2 separate regions of the Homo sapiens genome follow, and region 2 is linked to region 1. A link means that fine-mapping ties the variant in region 1 to the expression of a gene that starts in the linked region. Tissue or cell type: thyroid. Region 1 holds a variant in brackets; the other region holds the start of a gene. All regions are shown on one strand. Distances are from middle to middle.

Region 1 (8,110 bases):
CTTTGTTACTTATAAACCTGGAAATTTATAATTTTTTTCTAGAAATGTATTAATATCTATTCTTATAAACTTGGTAACATAATTTTTTACTGCCATTAAGTACTAACTATACTCCCTTATTAAATTTTAATCTATGCTATATCTGCAGTTAGAGCGCTTTTTCATTTCTAGCATTTTCTGTGTGTTCTTCCTTGATTTTTCTCTTGACTGATTTTCCCATAGGTTTGGTTATTTTATTAACCTCTTTCTAAGCTGTCTTTCAAATTTTTGGTTCTTTGTGTGATAACTTTGTTTTCCATTTCATCTACCATCTTCGCTGTTATTAGAGACTTTGTGATAAAGAATCTCTAACATTTATTGAGGGACTGGCATGAGACAGGTATCATTACATTATCTTATTTTGTCCTCATGATAACTTTAAAGGGAAGATGATAATATTGTACCTATTGTACAAATTAGGAAGCTTTGTGAAAGTCATAGGCCCAGCTAATCACAAAGCTGGGATTTGTACCATTCCTCTATTTTGTTTGAACTAGAACTCAAAGAATAAAGACAATGTTTAGTTCCAAGGAATAAATTAAAAATGCTGGGATTTTGGTTATGATATGAAGCCATAGAAAATTTTTGTTGAATTTGGAGTCGAGGCTAGTCAGTTCATAGCTGCTGCCTTCAGCCGTACTTCTGTTCTATGGATGGCAGAATGAGAGACTCTAATTATCATATGAGTCCTATCTAGACATTTTCTTTCCAGATATGTCTAAGCCAAAAATAATTGTTGTATATGTAATGGAGGGCTTCCTCCAAGTTATCAAATTGTCTTGTAATAGATGATAATTTTTTTTTGTATTTGAGTGTTGAGTTAGCTTATTTGCAATCAGTGTTCAAAGCATTTGCAAATGTTGCCTCTAGCTCTCACACTTCTCACAACTTCAGCAGCCTGTGAGATAAACAGGATAGTTATTATTCCCACCCTACAGATGTAAATAAGAGAAGCTGAATATCTTGCTCAAGGTCACATACATAGTGAGAAGCAGAATAATTTGAGAATACAGTCTGACTTCCATCTTGTTCATTGCTTTTAAAATTCATTCATTCCACATATACTTATTAAAGACCCTCTACGTGTAAGGTACAGTGTTGGGCATTGTAGTGTAATAGAAAGTTGTGTAAGTCATAGATATATGATACTCATAAAAATAATTACAATAAAAATGTTATATGAGAGATTTAGGTAAAGGCTTATGGGAAATTCAGAAGAGGGGGAGAATTTACCTTTTAGTGGAATTAAGAGGAAGATTCCAATATTTTTCTACTATGCTCCAAATCAATCATAAGAATTAGTCAAGATCAACAACGTGTTTTGGGAAACCTTGCAACGTAGTATTACATTGTATCCAATAGACTAAACGGACCAGAATGTCAAAGAAAATTCTGGAAAGAGATGAGTAAACTGGGTAGCTCAATGTACTGTAATACTACCCACAGCTGAATTTGAGGAACTTCCCAGATTTCTATAAGACTGTGGTAAGATCACCATTCACTATTAGACGCTGCCCACTTCTCCTCTATTGTAATCAAAAATGGTTGTAAATGAAAGAGATGTCTCTCTTTTCTCTAAGAAATCATCAGGAATAAATGCCATCATGCCTCATATACCTTAGTACCAAAAGTATATCTCTTTCACAAATTTGAGAACCCACATCATCAAAGAACATGCGGAAATATCTCCATATATAAAGATCTATATTCTCTAATCATCTAAATCCTTCCACCTTTTTCTCTCTCTCTCTCTTTCTTTCTCCCTTCCTTCCTTCCTTTCCTTCTTCCATTCTTCCCTTCTTTCCTTTCTTTCCTTCCTTTCCTTCCTTTCCTTTCTCTCTTTCTCTTTCTTTCTTTCTTTTTTGTTTTTGAGATGGAGTTTTGCTCTTGTCACCCAGGCTAGAGTGCAATGGTGCGATCTTGGCTCACTGCAACCTCCGCCTCCCAGGTTCAAGTTATTCTCCTGCCTCAGCCTCCCGAGTAGCTGGGATTACAGGCACCAGCCACCATACCTGGCTAATTTTTGTATTTTTAGTAGAGACAGGGTTTCATCATGTTGGCCAAGCTGGTCTCGAACTCCTGACCTCAGGTGATCCACCCGCCTTGGTCTCCCAAAGTGCTGGTATTACAGGCATGAGCCACCATGCCTAGCCTGTCCTTTCTTTGGAATAATCTCTCGCATCCTCAGTCTCTCCTTTGAACACTCATTCCTTTATTTTATGATTTATCTAAAACCTAATTGTCTCCTAAAAGGAGGACACTACTTTCCTTGAAGCCCTCTTAGGGGTATCTGCTTTTCCCCACACAATGCCCACATCATAAACTAAAGAGATGGTGATTGGAGCCCTTCTTATTCATCATTGTTTTTCTAGGTCTTTTCTTTTCTTTTTTATTTCAAAAATCTTTTGAGGCATATGTCATTAGACTAAACTACCTTCTACTATTCCATCTTGCAATCATTTTCTGGCCTTTCAGTCATACAACTTATTGAAGATTTTAGCACTCAGTTAATGGTATATCTCTGTCAGTATTCCTTAATCTCTCTCTCTCTTTCTTTCCTTTCTTTCCTCTCTTTCCTCTCCTTCCTTTCTTTCTTTCTTTCTTTCTTTCTTTCTTTCTTTCTTTCTTTCTTTCTTTCTTTCTTTCTTTTCTCTTTCTTCTCCTTCCTTCCTTCCTTCTCTCTCTCTCTCTCTTTTCTCTTTCCTTTTCTTTTGACATAGGGTCTCTCTCTGTCATGGTACAATCATAGCTCACTCCAACTTCCAACTTTTGGCCTCAAGCTGTCCTCCCACCTCAGCCTGCAGACTATCCAGTAATCATTCTTGATTACTTCAACAATTATCTAGATCTTCCATTCAACAACTTTCCTCTCAGATCTTTTTACTTTGATGTTTTCAACCAATCGACCTCAGCCATTCACTCCACTCACTCTCATAATTAAACTCTGAACCTCATTATTACCTTTAACTTTTCCAAATATCAATTTCAGGCATTCCAATCTTTGACAATCACTCTTAATTTTCTAACATATTTATTCCAGTACTCAAACCGCAAAAGCCCTTTGACCCACAGAGACCATCAGTTTGTTGCCCATTCATCTCTTTCCTTTACATCAAACCTCTCTTCTCATTTCCATCTTTTCAAACTAGACTAAATTCTATGGTCCATCAGTCCCTCGCATACAACCTAAACAACCTTTCCCCTTTTCTTTCCATAGGATTCATTTTGCAAGAGCACAAACTTGGTTAATTAAAACTCTCCACATCCCCTCTCCTTGCATCTGAGCAGAGCATGGCCAGAAAAAAAAAATCTACTATTATGCTGCATGGACTCACTTGAAATTTTAAACCACAAAACTCAAACAAACCCTCAGCACTGCCCAACCAATTTTCTTTGTCTCTCTAGGCAATTTGCTTTTCCACTCTTTGGGAAGATTATTTCACACCTTCTGTCTCTTCAAACCTGTTCTCCCCTTCTCACTCAGAGCAGATGATCTCACTTCCTATTTCACTGAAGAATAAGAACAATCAGAAGAGAAAATGTATCTTTCAACACAAAATTTGTCAGTCTAAATATATCTGTACCCCTATCTTCTGCCTTCATTCCTGGTAAGTGGGATAATCTTTCCTAGTTCCTATCAAATGCTTGGGTACTGGATCTCATCTCCTGTAAACTACTCAAGGACTCTGGTCTTGAAATTCTCCCCTTCACTCCTGCATCATCAGTTTCTCCCTTTCTATTTGGTCATTTCCATCAATGAGAAGACATGGTAGAATATCCGTTTTTAGGGAAGAATTCCTCATTCATTCTCCCAGGGCAGGAAAAATAAATGTTGTGATTGGTAAATGGAGGAGTTGAGCTCAGATCTTTCTTCCTTTCACTTTCCTCCTTGGGCTCCCCCTGCCTGGAGAAAGCCCACATTCTATTTCTTTCCTTAAAATTATGTTTTAAAAGGGTAGACCCCCATGAGGAAGGCCCACAATTGTTCAGAGCTGCCAGGAACTGGGCAGATAAGTCTGCTTAATTCTCGGTACAATATTATTAATTGTATTTTAGCTAATAGACTTAAATCCACCTACCAACACTTTTGTCAGTAATGAAAGTAATATTTTGATCTTTGACTGCCTGTTTCCTATCTCTCAGTAGATTCAGAATTTGGTCATATATAAAGATAATGTTTTTTACTGGATTCTCTCAAATCCCAGAATCTCCTA[T/C]CTTAAAAATGTTGCCTAGATCTTGTCTTTCTCCATCTCTCACCCTATTATTAGAAATGCCCTCTTTTAAAGCAAAGCTCCCCAGTAAATTTGGTCTAACTCACTGTCAACTCGTTCTTACCTCCTCTTACCTCTTCAGACTTTCAGTCCCAACACAATGCTAAATTGATTCTGTCAAGACCACTGGCAACTTACATCTTGCTAAATCCAATGGTCAATTTCCAGCACTCGAATTACACAATCTCTCAATCTCGTTTGCCACAGTTGATTACTCTATGTTTCTTAAAGTGTTTTTTCTCCTTCCTGGCTTCCTGAATTCGACTTTTCTTCTTGGATACCACTGAGGTAGGTTTTCATCCTGCTTCACAGATGAGCTCGGTGGCCACTTCCTTTTCATTCTTCATTCCCTTCCCCACCCCACCTAATAACTTTCATATTATCATTCCCTTATTGTCCTTAACCCACCTCCATCCCATTTTCCCCACCATTAGTATACTAGCTAACTTAGGCACTCTGTGACTTTGGCTCTTTTCTTTTCTTTTCTCTTTCTTTCTTCCTTCCTTCCTTTCTTTCTTTCTTTTCCGTCTTACTTTTTTTCTCTTTCTCTCTTTCTTTCTTTCCTTACTTTTCTTTCTTTTCCTTCTTCCTTTGTTTTTTCTCTTTCTCTCTTTCTTTTCCTTTCTTTCTTACTTTTCTTTCTTTGTTTCTTTCCTTCCTCCCTCCCTTCCTCTGTTCCTCCCTTCCTTCTTCCCTCCTTCTTTCCTCCCTTCTTCTTTCCCTCCTTTCTTCCTTCCCTCCCTCCTTCACTTCTTCCCTCTCTCACTTCTTTCCTTCTTTCCTTCCTTCCTTTTTTCTTTTCTTCCTTCCTTCCTCCCTCTTTCCCTCCTTTTTTCCTCCCCTCCCTCCCTCACTTCTTTCCTTCCTCCTTTCTTTCTTCCTTCCTTGCTTCCTTCCTTGCTCCCTCCTTCCCTGCCTCCCTTCCTCCATCTCGTCCTTTCTTCCTTCCTTTCTTCTCTCTCATTCCCAATGTTCTCACAGAAGATTCCTTTCACTTCCAGCCCCAACTGAAACCTGGCTGTCCTCTAATAATGCCACTTTATTTGGCGATATGTATTTAAAAAAAAAATTGACTCCAAAATTCTATTTATAGAAATATGTATTTATAGAAATATATCCTAAGGGAAGAATATGAGAAAAAATATGTAAGCAAATATGTCCATCTCAACAATAGTCATAATGGTGAAAAAACCTCAAAAACAAATATAAATATTTGTTAATTGGAGGGTACAAAAATTAGCAAACAGAACTAGATATGTATCTATTAACATGGGAAAATGTTGTTATTTTAAGAAAGATAAAAGTCCCAGGTTATAAGATAGCAAGAAAATTACGATCCAATGTTTACCTATGAAACAATATATGGTAAATTGCACATACATGTAAGTTAGTTTACATAAAGATAGGGTTTTAAAAAATTGTATCTTTTCTCTTCCTGTTCCTTTGTTGGACCCAGGTTAGTGGAAGGAGAGGATGAAGAGGTGCTGGGTGAGACTTTCTAAGTTTGGAAGTGAGAACACAGATCAGAAAGGAAAAGATTGATAAACTGATTACATAATAACTTGTGTACATTCATATAGACAGATGTTTCACATAAATATATAAGGCTGGAAAACATTATCAGTAAATGTGGCATGATTATGTAAATATATCATTCAAACTGATAAGAAAATCAGTAAGCCTAAAGTAAGAAGCAGATATGAACAGCAAATGTTTCTAGAAGTAGAACTGACAGAAATAATGAAAGAATGCCCAGGCTCACTAGAAATCAAATGTCAGCTGAAGCTGCAATGATGCAATCTCCCCATTAAACTAGTAAGTTAGTAAACTATAGATGTAAATGTGTATGTTTACATATGTATATGTGCCCATATATGAGTATCTCCACATACATATGTGTGTACACACACACACACTCACACACACATACACACACACACACACTTACACACACTCACTCTACCCTACCAGGTTATAAAAGTTCCATGAGGGAGAAACTATTTTGTGTGATTGAATGCTTTATCCTGGGCACCAAGATCAGTGATAGAAACTTAGTAAGTGCTTAATAAATATCTGTTGAATGAATAAATGCCAGTGAAGTTATGGTGAAACTGATACACATTTTTAAATAACTTATTCTATTACTATAGCTTCCCAATTTGCAAAATCATTTCAAAATTATGAGTATTTCATATCTGTTTAACTTTTTCAGTTTCCAAACATAATAAAATATATATATTGACCCAGTCCTTTAAAAAAGTTTAATTATTTGATTCTAGTTTTTTAATGTTTTTCCTGTCCTTTATTTAGCAATGTAATCTACTTATTTATATCGTGTTTTAGTGCAACTTACAAGAAAAATAACGTGTCAGAGAAAATTGCATTGTAAATGTAAAAATGCAAATCAAATAAAAATTCCATTACAAATCACTCGTGAGGCGATCTCTAACATCGATTTCAGGACAAAATATCACTGAAACAGCCACTGCCTTATTATGCAGACTATAAAATACGCTTTAAGAAAATGGCAAAAGGTCAAGGTCTTTCTCTTTCTCTTTTTCCAGTCAGGTCAGGTAAATAATAGGGCATTAGAATGAAAAACTATTATATTTCTTACTCTGGGGCTGAAAACCATGGAATATTTACAACATGCATAACTCTAAAAGTGCTAGCCTTTCATTTTAACTTTGAAGTTTGAGTGATTTTGGTTGGAAATATGCATAGATATATCACAATTCAATTGAGAATTAAAAGACAGGGCAAATCTTTGAGGGAGTGGGCACCTTGGTGTTGTGACCTGAGAAGCCCCACAGTTGTCACGGCCCAGCCGTCGAGATGCAGACCTTTGGGCAAACAAGCATTCATTCATCTTTGAAATCCTACAACAAAGCAAATCTGGAGATTTACTACCAAAATGTTACTTCCTGGGCATTTTTGCCATCATAAACCTTCCACTGACCTTCCTCTTCCCCCTCCACAGTAAGGAAGGAAGACACTTTTTAACTCCCAACAGCAATCAGTAATACTCACCTTTCCACTTATTGTTTGTGAAAGCAGACTAGTGTAAGGGAAACTAGTTAAACCCATTGGATTGGAATTTAAGAAACCAGTTCAATTCTAACTCTGTCATATGTAAATTCAGAGAAGTCATTAAATTAATCTAAGCCTTAGATTGCTTGTCTATGTAATAAAACTAATAATATCAGTTCCACCTGCCTTCCAAGAGTGTTATAAAATTATATGGTGGTAGTGTTCAAGTAGTATGTACATTGTATTATTCTTTTTGCAGCTTTTTCACTCTCATCCTTGAGATTTTGGACCTTACTTCAAAAGCAAATACTCTTCAGGAAACTAATCCTCCAACCTAGCAATCAGTCATTTTTCCTTTAGTTAGCTCCAACATAGCATCTGCTTTCTTCTTAAGAGTGTGGCGGGGCAGGATTGAGTTTTAATTCATAGAAGAGATGGAGAGAAGTAATTTTAAAATATAAGACACTGCCTAACGTAAGGCTGAAAGGCCCTCCTAGCTGATCTTTTCTATTCCCTTCATGTATCTCTCAGCAATGTACTCATAAGTCTCCAACTGGTATGTACACTCTTAGCCCTCTCTTCCAGTTTGAACCCAATTCATCTGCCCATCTCCTAGACACCTGCAATCAACTGATCTCCATTGAACTCATCAGTTCCCGTGTGCATTTTCACCAAACCCGTCTCAGTCCATGGACATGCCACTCTAATCACTGCCCAAGCCAGAAACCTCACAGGTATCTTACATTCCAACTTCTCTCAACACTCATATT
Region 2 (8,097 bases), 240 kb before region 1:
GCCCAGCCCCCAAATTATTTGCCAACCTCCCCCACAGATGAGTGTGTCATGTGACTAAGTTCTTGCCCATAAGCGGAAGTGTTGTGTGAGACTTCTGGATAGGTCCCTTTTTTTCTGGACTCCTTCTGACCTACAATGCCGACAAGGTGCCTCGATCTCCAGCAGCCATCTTGGGTCATAGGGCAACCTTAAGAATGGAAGCCTCACACTAGGATGGCGAAAGATTAAGGTAGCAGGAACCTGACTTCACGATGACTGTGAAGCTACTATATATCCTCTGGGATGCTCCTTCTGCATTTATTTTACTTAAGAGAGTAAAAATGTATATCTTGCTTAAGACACTATTATTTCTAGTTATTGTTATTAGCAGATGAACACAATTCCTAAGTGATACATATATTAAGGTATTAATTGAAAATATTTTGTGATTTCTAGGATTAGATTTCTAGATACGTGTAATAGCTTTTCCCCTATCCCGCCAGGTACACACACATAAACATGCATTCTAATTTGTAAGAAAGAAAACTAAGTGATTATGTGAAGTTGTACCAGTAATATATTTTGTGCAATTGCAAAGGATAATGCTTTTGCAATGTGAATCATGGGAAAATAAGAATTTGAGCATCACTTAAGAATTTTTCAATGTACCTACATGCACTAAAAAACAAACAAACAAAAAACAAAAAACCAAGGCCGGGCGCTCTGGCTCACGCCTGTAATCCCAGCAATTTGGGAGGCCAAGGCAGGCAGATCACAGGGTCAGGAGATGGAGACCATCCTGGCTAACACGGTGAAACCTGTTTCTACTAAAAATACAAAAAATTAGCCGGGCCTGCTGGCGGGCGCCTGTAGTCCCAGCTACTCAGGAGGCTGAGGCAGGAGAACGGTATGAACGCGGGAGGTGGAGCTTGCAGTGAGCAGAGATGGCGCCACTGCACTCCAGCCTGGGTGACAGAGCGAGACTCCATCTCAAAAAAGACAAAACAAAACAAAACAAACCAAAACAGTAGAGAGGAAGACAAGCAAATACAGAAATGGAATTCAGCAACAGAATATTAATAGTTTTTTCTTTATCTTTTGCAATTAATAGCAAGAAAGGAAGGAAAGATCAATCTATTGAGCAGTCAGATGGAATGGTAAAGATTAATCATTCTCTTCCCTTCAGAAGTTGCCTTAATTCTTTGTCTTTTAAGATCCAGCTCTTTTATAAGGCCCTCACCAATCTCTCAGTAGGAATTAACCTCTGCTCTTTATCAGGACTAGAACCAAGCTACAGCGGGTGAGGCATTTGTCTTGGGTACAAAAGTTAAAACTCAGTAATCAAGATAAATATTTTAATGGAATATTTTAATTGGCAAACTAAGGCATGTGGGCCAGTCTCCTGTTTTTGTAAATAATTTTTTAATTATACTTTGCTTTTATTTGTATTATAGCACTTAAATAGTACTTTTTACATTAGCCCTCTCCCAACAGGGCTGTACTCATTTTTGTATTCCTCATGTACCTACTACTCTGTTTGAAGCATAAAGGCCTCTTAAAAAAATCTTGCATTGAGTTGATTAAAGGATTTTTGCAAGAATATATTGTACTGGTGATGGTGGGGTTCAATTTTCATACTGAATTCAACAATAGCAAAAGAATAACAGAATGATGACTATTTTGAAAGTACTTATAATTTAGTGCTGTGGGAAAAATCACTTGGCTTGTCTTTGACTAAAACCCTGCTGAGCTTAGGGAGATAGAGAATTGTAATATTACATTATGTTCATATAGCACTTTTTCCTACATAAAGTGCTTTCTTTTAATCCTCACCTCAATCCTGTAAGGTCGGTATTGCTATCCCTATTTATTGTAGAGAGATTGAGAAATGAGGTGACTTGCCCAGGGAGTTATGGGCAAAAAGAGGCAGAGCTGGGGTTCTAACCCAGATTTTGTCTGTCACAATTGAATGCCCTTTCTGCGATTATAAATCTTATGTCTCAGAGTTGAATGAGAAACAATTTATACAGCAACTACAATAGCATTCTTATCATTAAAATGTTCTGATTATGTGTGTGTGTGTTTGTGTATGTGTGTGTGTGTATGTGTGTGTGTGATGAAGTAGCTGAACTTGGTATTTTTCGGTAGAGGGTAGGAAACTACACATTGAAAAGCCGAAGATGAAATTATGTTATTTGAGTATTACTTTCTAACTATAACTTTACCACTGATGTGTGTATGATATTCTGCAAAGTGACTAAACTGTACGTGTTTGCTTCTTCATGGAAAAAAAATTTGGGAAGGCATTTAAACTTTTCAGCTGAAAAAGGTTATGTCAATGTGAAAGATTATAGTACTCGAGAATTAGGAGTTGATTAAATTTAACGGTTTCCTTTTCATACTTAGGGGGAAAAATCTACGACTGTATTTTAAAACTCCATATGGCAATTAAATTTGAGAGCGTATAACTAACTACTTCACTAGAATTTCCATCAGTATACAATAAACACACAGTCAAAACCTCAAATGTCCATTATTAGCCCATCTAGTAGACGATATTTTATAATTATGGATTCCCCATATTGATTGATGTCCAGAGAAAAACTGCAGTCTTCTCTTACTAAGCTGATAGTTGAGTTCCTGGGAAATCCTCACCCCCTAAGAACAAATAATTCTCAAAGAAATTCAAAGTCATTCCTTTTGGTGAATTGCAATCAGTCATCAATAACTATTTATGGAATGTCCGAAGGGTGCCTAGGCATTGAAATGGCAAGAGACTTATATTTGCTTAATTCAAAGGATTTCTAAAGGCAGTCTGAGGACTTGCAAGAAGTCTTTAAAGATGCAAAGTGGTGTGTTCTTTAACTGCCCCTACCTGGAATGAATTGAACAGTCTGGGTGTTAGGGCTTTGATGTCTAATCCCGCTTTGCAAGCGAAGACTCCACTGGTGCCAAGCGACAGGCGGGCTGGTGGGCAGACATGGCACCACCACCGGGGGCTTTCAGGACTGGTCCAGCCCTCCCAGGCAGGTGTAGGGCCGACTGCAGCAACAGCGGCCCTGACCCCAGCTCCCATGGCTCCCCTCCCCCCGCACTCCCACCCCCCGCACCCGGCACACACCATCTCCCAGTCACCCAGTCTCGACCGGTTCTCGCGAGATCCGGGTTACTGAGCGCTCGGGGCCTTTTCAAATCGGGATCCGTTACCGCTTCCCCGGCAGCCGCCATTGTCGCGCTCGGAGCCCCTCAGCTCAGGCGGCCGAGGCGGAGGCAGCGGCGGCGGGATGGCGGACGCCAACAAGGCCGAGGTGCCCGGGGCCACTGGTGGCGACAGCCCGCACCTGCAGCCCGCAGAGCCGCCGGGCGAGCCGCGGCGAGAGCCGCACCCCGCGGAGGCGGAGAAGCAGCAGCCGCAGCACAGCAGCAGCTCCAATGGCGTTAAAATGTATTGTCTTTTCCTCCGGGAACCGGGGCGAGGTGGGGGGCGGGGAGTCTACCGGGCGGCTAGAGGCCGGGCTGTGCCCCGATGGGGGACAACCACCCCCAGACCCCGGCCCGCCCCCGGGCCATCGGCTTCCTGAGGAGCAGGTGCAGCTGGGCCGCTCCCAGGCCCTTCCCCGCCCGCCCCAGGCCTGGCCGCCTGTGGTCTGGGAGCCGGGGCTGGGGGCCCGGGGACCAGCGCTCTTCCCTGATTTCTAGCCCGAGACAGCGAACACCCCTCTTCCCTGACTTTGGTTAAAGAATCTTTGAGCAAAGCTCAGCGACCGCCACGGTTTGCAGGAAAATGGTCCCCCTTTAAGGACCAGTAGTTAGTGTTCATCACTAGGGAGTATCTAGGGATGACATCATCGGACATTTCCTCTTAACCACCGAGAACATATTTAAAAGGAATATTCCTGGCTTCTTTCTGAGCTTCACAAGTTTAGTGTTTTGTTGTTTTCTAAAGTGTATGTTCATTTTTAAACTGATTTATACCGAGAGGAAGTTTAATAATGTGCTGTTAGACTCTATGTTTTGTGTTACTCTTGAATTGGCTAGACGTACTTTAAAAAGGGAAATGTGCGATGTGCGTGGCTTCCCTTCCCACTGGGTAATGTGCGTCAGCTGTGGAGAGTATTTTTTTTTTTAACTCAGTGTATGATTATCTTAAGTTTGGTATAATAGATGGTTAAGATTTTTTTTTTCCCAAATGAAGGAAGACTTTTAAGGTCGCAGCTGTCACCAGTGCCTATAAAGAATTTAGTTGACCCCAATCCATAATAATTTCTGGTTCTAGGGAAATGTTATGCTCTCCTTTGTTCCTGTCCTGTGGGAGGATATGAAGTTAAGCGCTTACTTTCATATGCCTACCTCCTTAAACCTGAAGTTGAAAGTATGTTAATAATTAAGTGAAAACATCCTTTTCCTTCTCTGTTATGCCTCAGAGCAGAAAGCAATAGATATATGCTCACAGTAAAATAGACAAGGGAAAGGTCTTTCTGACCTTTGTATAAGCATGTTTGAAATTGTATGGTAAGAACTGGACCAGTCTGTGTAAAAGTTGGTGGCAAAAAAGATGGGGTAGCTCTCCCCAGCTCTTTGACACTCTTGCTCTCAAATGAGTTTGAACAGGATCGGCAGCATCTTCTAGGAGAATAGAGGTGCAGGTATAAGAGATTGGAACTTAGTGGAGTTTATTCCTGGATGAAGAGTGGTGCACCTCAGTAATTGAGGAACCAGAAAGGGAATGAAGTGCTTTCTACCATGCTTGCCAAAATGTGGGCTTTCTGGAATTTGGCATTAAAAATAGAAATGAAAACCGGTGGAATGATAAACTTAAAAATATGTGCTATTCATATCTAAACACGAGTATACATGCCACCTTTTCTCCTGAACAAAAAGTGCAGCCTTGAATTACAGAGAGAAGCCCTCCTATACTTGGGTATGATTAGTTTTGATATAGGGGAAGTTTGGTATCTAAACCTCCATCAGATTTTCTATTCCCTTCTAAAGTCTCTTCATGATTTAGCAAGACAGGAAAAGAGAAAGGAGAAAGGTGGAGAAAGAATCCTTTTCTAATTTAGGAAGAGAAAAATATAAGGTGAAGAAATGAAGAAATATTACTAGTAAATACAGATTATTTCCATATTGCTTATAATTCGCCTCTCCCTTTCTCTTTTTCCCAGAAGTTGAATCGAGTCCAATTTACTCTCAGGGATTTCTCTTACTGTCTATTCCATAAGAAGATTTGTGATGGTCCAGCATGAGTCATTCAAACTGAATAACTAGCGACCTAGTCCTTTTTTTTTTTTTTTTTTTTTTTACTTCGTGAACTAGTAGGAGTGGATAACAACCCCAATACATAAACCTTGAGTTGATTACCATATACTTTTAATAATAAAAATAATTCATTGTTGATTATAAAAATTACCATAATATTGCCCCAAATTATGTATTGGTTGGAATTGAACAGAGTACTGCTTGTCATCAGGATTGAAATAATATTTGCTGAGGTTAATCCATAGTTATTGAGGGTGGGAGACCACTATGTCTTATTCTTCTTTGTATTCTTAAGGCCTAGTAAATATTTGTGGAAGAAATGCAGAAGTGAACTTTCATGCTTATGAAACTCATATACAGGGAATTTAGTTTGCATATTCACACCTTTAGAAAAGATCCGTTTTCCAACTGTAGTCTTCTTCTTTAACGCCAAATGGTATACTAGCTCTCCTTTTCTTAAAAATGAATAGGAGGGAAAAGAGCAGTATTATTATAACTTTATTATTCATGTGTAATTAAGTATAACTTTGGAGTAGGTAGAGATTGAGAGTTATATTAGGGTACTATAAAATATTAAGCATTGGAGCAAGGTAATGTGTTCTTTAGCTGAGTGATTTTTATTAGGAATAAAGACTAGAACTGTTTCCCCCAGCTTTATTGAGGTAAATTGACAAAAATTGTATATTTTGAAGTGTACAGTGTGATGGTTTGGTATACAAATAAATTGTGAAATGATTACCACAATCACGCTAATTAACGTATCTGTTACCTCGCATAGCTACCATATTTTTTGGTGTTGAAAATACTTAAGATCTATTCTTTAAGCAAATTTCAAGTATACAGTAAATATGTTAAGTATAGTCACTATACTGTACCTTAGATCTACAGAACTTACTCATCTTATAACTGAAAGTTTGTGCCCTTAGAACATTTCCCCATCCCCTGCTGCCCTCCACCTCTGGTAAACACCCTTCTACTCTCTGCTTCTGAGTTTGACTTTTTTAAAAGTCTGTGTGTAAGTGAGATCATGTAGCATTTGTCTTTCTGAGTCTGGCTTTTTTCACATAGCCCAATGTCCTCTAGGTTTATCTCTGTTGTTGCAAATGGCAAGATTTTGTTCTTTTTGTAAGGCTGAATAATAATATTCCAGTGTGGATGTGTTGTGTAAACATAAAATATAATATATATCATGTTTCCTTTAATCATTTATCTGTCAATGGACACTTAAGTCGTTGTTTCCATATCTTGGGTATTGTGGATGATGCAGCGAACATGGGAGTGCAGATATCTCCTTGAGATAGTGATTTCATTTTCATTGGATATATACCCAGAAGTGGCATTGATGAATCATGTGGTAGTTCTGTTTTTAATTTTTTGTGGACCCTTGATGCTGTTTTCCATAATGGCTGTACCAATGTATATTCCCACCAGCAGTATCTAAAGGTTCTTTCTCCACGTCCTCAGCAACAGTTGCTATCTTTTGACTTTTCGATAAGTCATCCTAACAGGTATGAAGTGATATTGCAGTCTGGTTTTGAGTTGTATTTCCCTGATGAACAGTGATATTGAGCACCTTTTCATATACCTTTTGGCCGTTGGTATGTCTTCTTTGGAAAAATTATCTGTTTGGATCCTTTTCTCATTTTTTAAATTGGGTTGCTATTGAGTTGTATGGGTTCCTTATACATTTTTGATATTAATCCCTTATTGGATATATGGTTTGCAAATTTTATCTCTCATTTCTTAGGTTGCCTTTTTATTTTGTTGAGTTTCCTTTGCTGTGCAATAACTTTTTACTTTGATGTAGTCCCAGTTGTTTACTTTTGTTTGTGTTGTCTGTGCTTTTGGTGTCATATCAAAAAAAAAAAAAATCATTGCCAAGGCCAAGGTCATGGAGCTTTTCTCTTGTGTTTTCTTCTAGGAGTTCCATGGTTTTAGGTGTTATAAGTTTTTAATCCATTTTCATTTTGTTTTGTATGTGGATATCTAGTTTTCCCAATACCATTTTTTGAAGAGACTGTCCTTTCACCATTGTATATTTTTGGTGCCTTTGTCAAGGATTAGTTTACCATATATTGGGGATGTGTTTTTGAGTGTTTGTTATGCTCCATTGGTCTGTGTGTCTGTTTTTGTACCAGTACCATATTGTTTTGATTACTATAGATTTGTAATATAACTTGAATCAGGTAGTGTGGTACTTTTAGTTTTTTCTTCTTGTTTAAGCTTGCTTTAGCCATTTGAGATCTTTTATGGTTCATACGGATTTCAGGAATTTTTCCGTTTCTGTGAAAAATGCTGTTAGAATTTTGATAGAGATCACATTGAATTTATAGGTCATTTTGGGTAGGAAGGACATTTTGACAATATTAATTCCTCTCATCTGTGAACATGGAATATCTTTCATTTGTATTATTTTCAATTTCTTTTATCATTGTTTGATCGTTTTTCAGTGTATAGCTCTTTAGCTTTCTTGGTTAAATTTATTTCTAGGTATTTTATTCTTTCTGATGCTATTTTAAATGAGATTATGTTCTTAATTTTTTGGATAGTTCATTATTATTAGTGTGTAGATATGCAGTGGATTTTTGAATGTTGACTTTGTATTCTATAACTTTACTGAATTTGTTCTAATAGTTTTTTTGGTGTTGTCTTTAAAATTTTCTCTGAATAATTTTCTATATAAGATCACATCTTCTGCAAACAGAGTTAATTTTACTTCTTTCTCTCCAATTTGGTTGCCTTTTATGTCTTTTATTTGCCTAATTGCTCTGGCTGTGACCTTCAGTACAATGTTGAATAGAAGTGGTGAGCATGGGCATCTTCTCTTTTTCCTGCTCTTAGAGGTAAAACCTTCAAATT

Alleles and levels. Alleles are on the strand shown, and positions count from the first base shown. SD is a standard deviation of normalised expression in the study named.
For the expression in thyroid of the gene that starts at base 3,206 in region 2, T is the low allele of the variant in region 1 and C is the other (large effect, 0.89 SD a copy in GTEx).

What was found. PIP is the estimated chance that this variant, and not a neighbour inherited with it, causes the effect.
Region 2: it holds the start of MYEF2, and the variant in region 1 is fine-mapped to the expression of MYEF2 in thyroid (GTEx, PIP above 0.99). The same link has a PIP of 0.9 or more in skeletal muscle.

Annotation. Positions count from the first base shown.
Region 1 is chr15:47,934,964-47,943,073 of GRCh38, reverse strand. All of the region lies in intron 1 of LOC124900354 (a long non-coding RNA gene), which reads right to left. Among named protein-coding and RNA genes, the nearest start is that of LINC01491, 93 kb to the right of the region's middle. The variant T/C (reference allele first, on the strand shown) is at 4,254.
Region 2 is chr15:48,173,404-48,181,500 of GRCh38, reverse strand. It overlaps MYEF2 (myelin expression factor 2), which reads left to right and starts at 3,206. Exons shown (of 17, transcript NM_016132.5): 1 at 3,206-3,424. The coding sequence starts at 3,264. It also overlaps a transcript of CTXN2 not described here. RefSeq lists silencers at 2,965-3,064, 3,235-3,664, 3,695-3,864 and an enhancer at 2,611-3,262.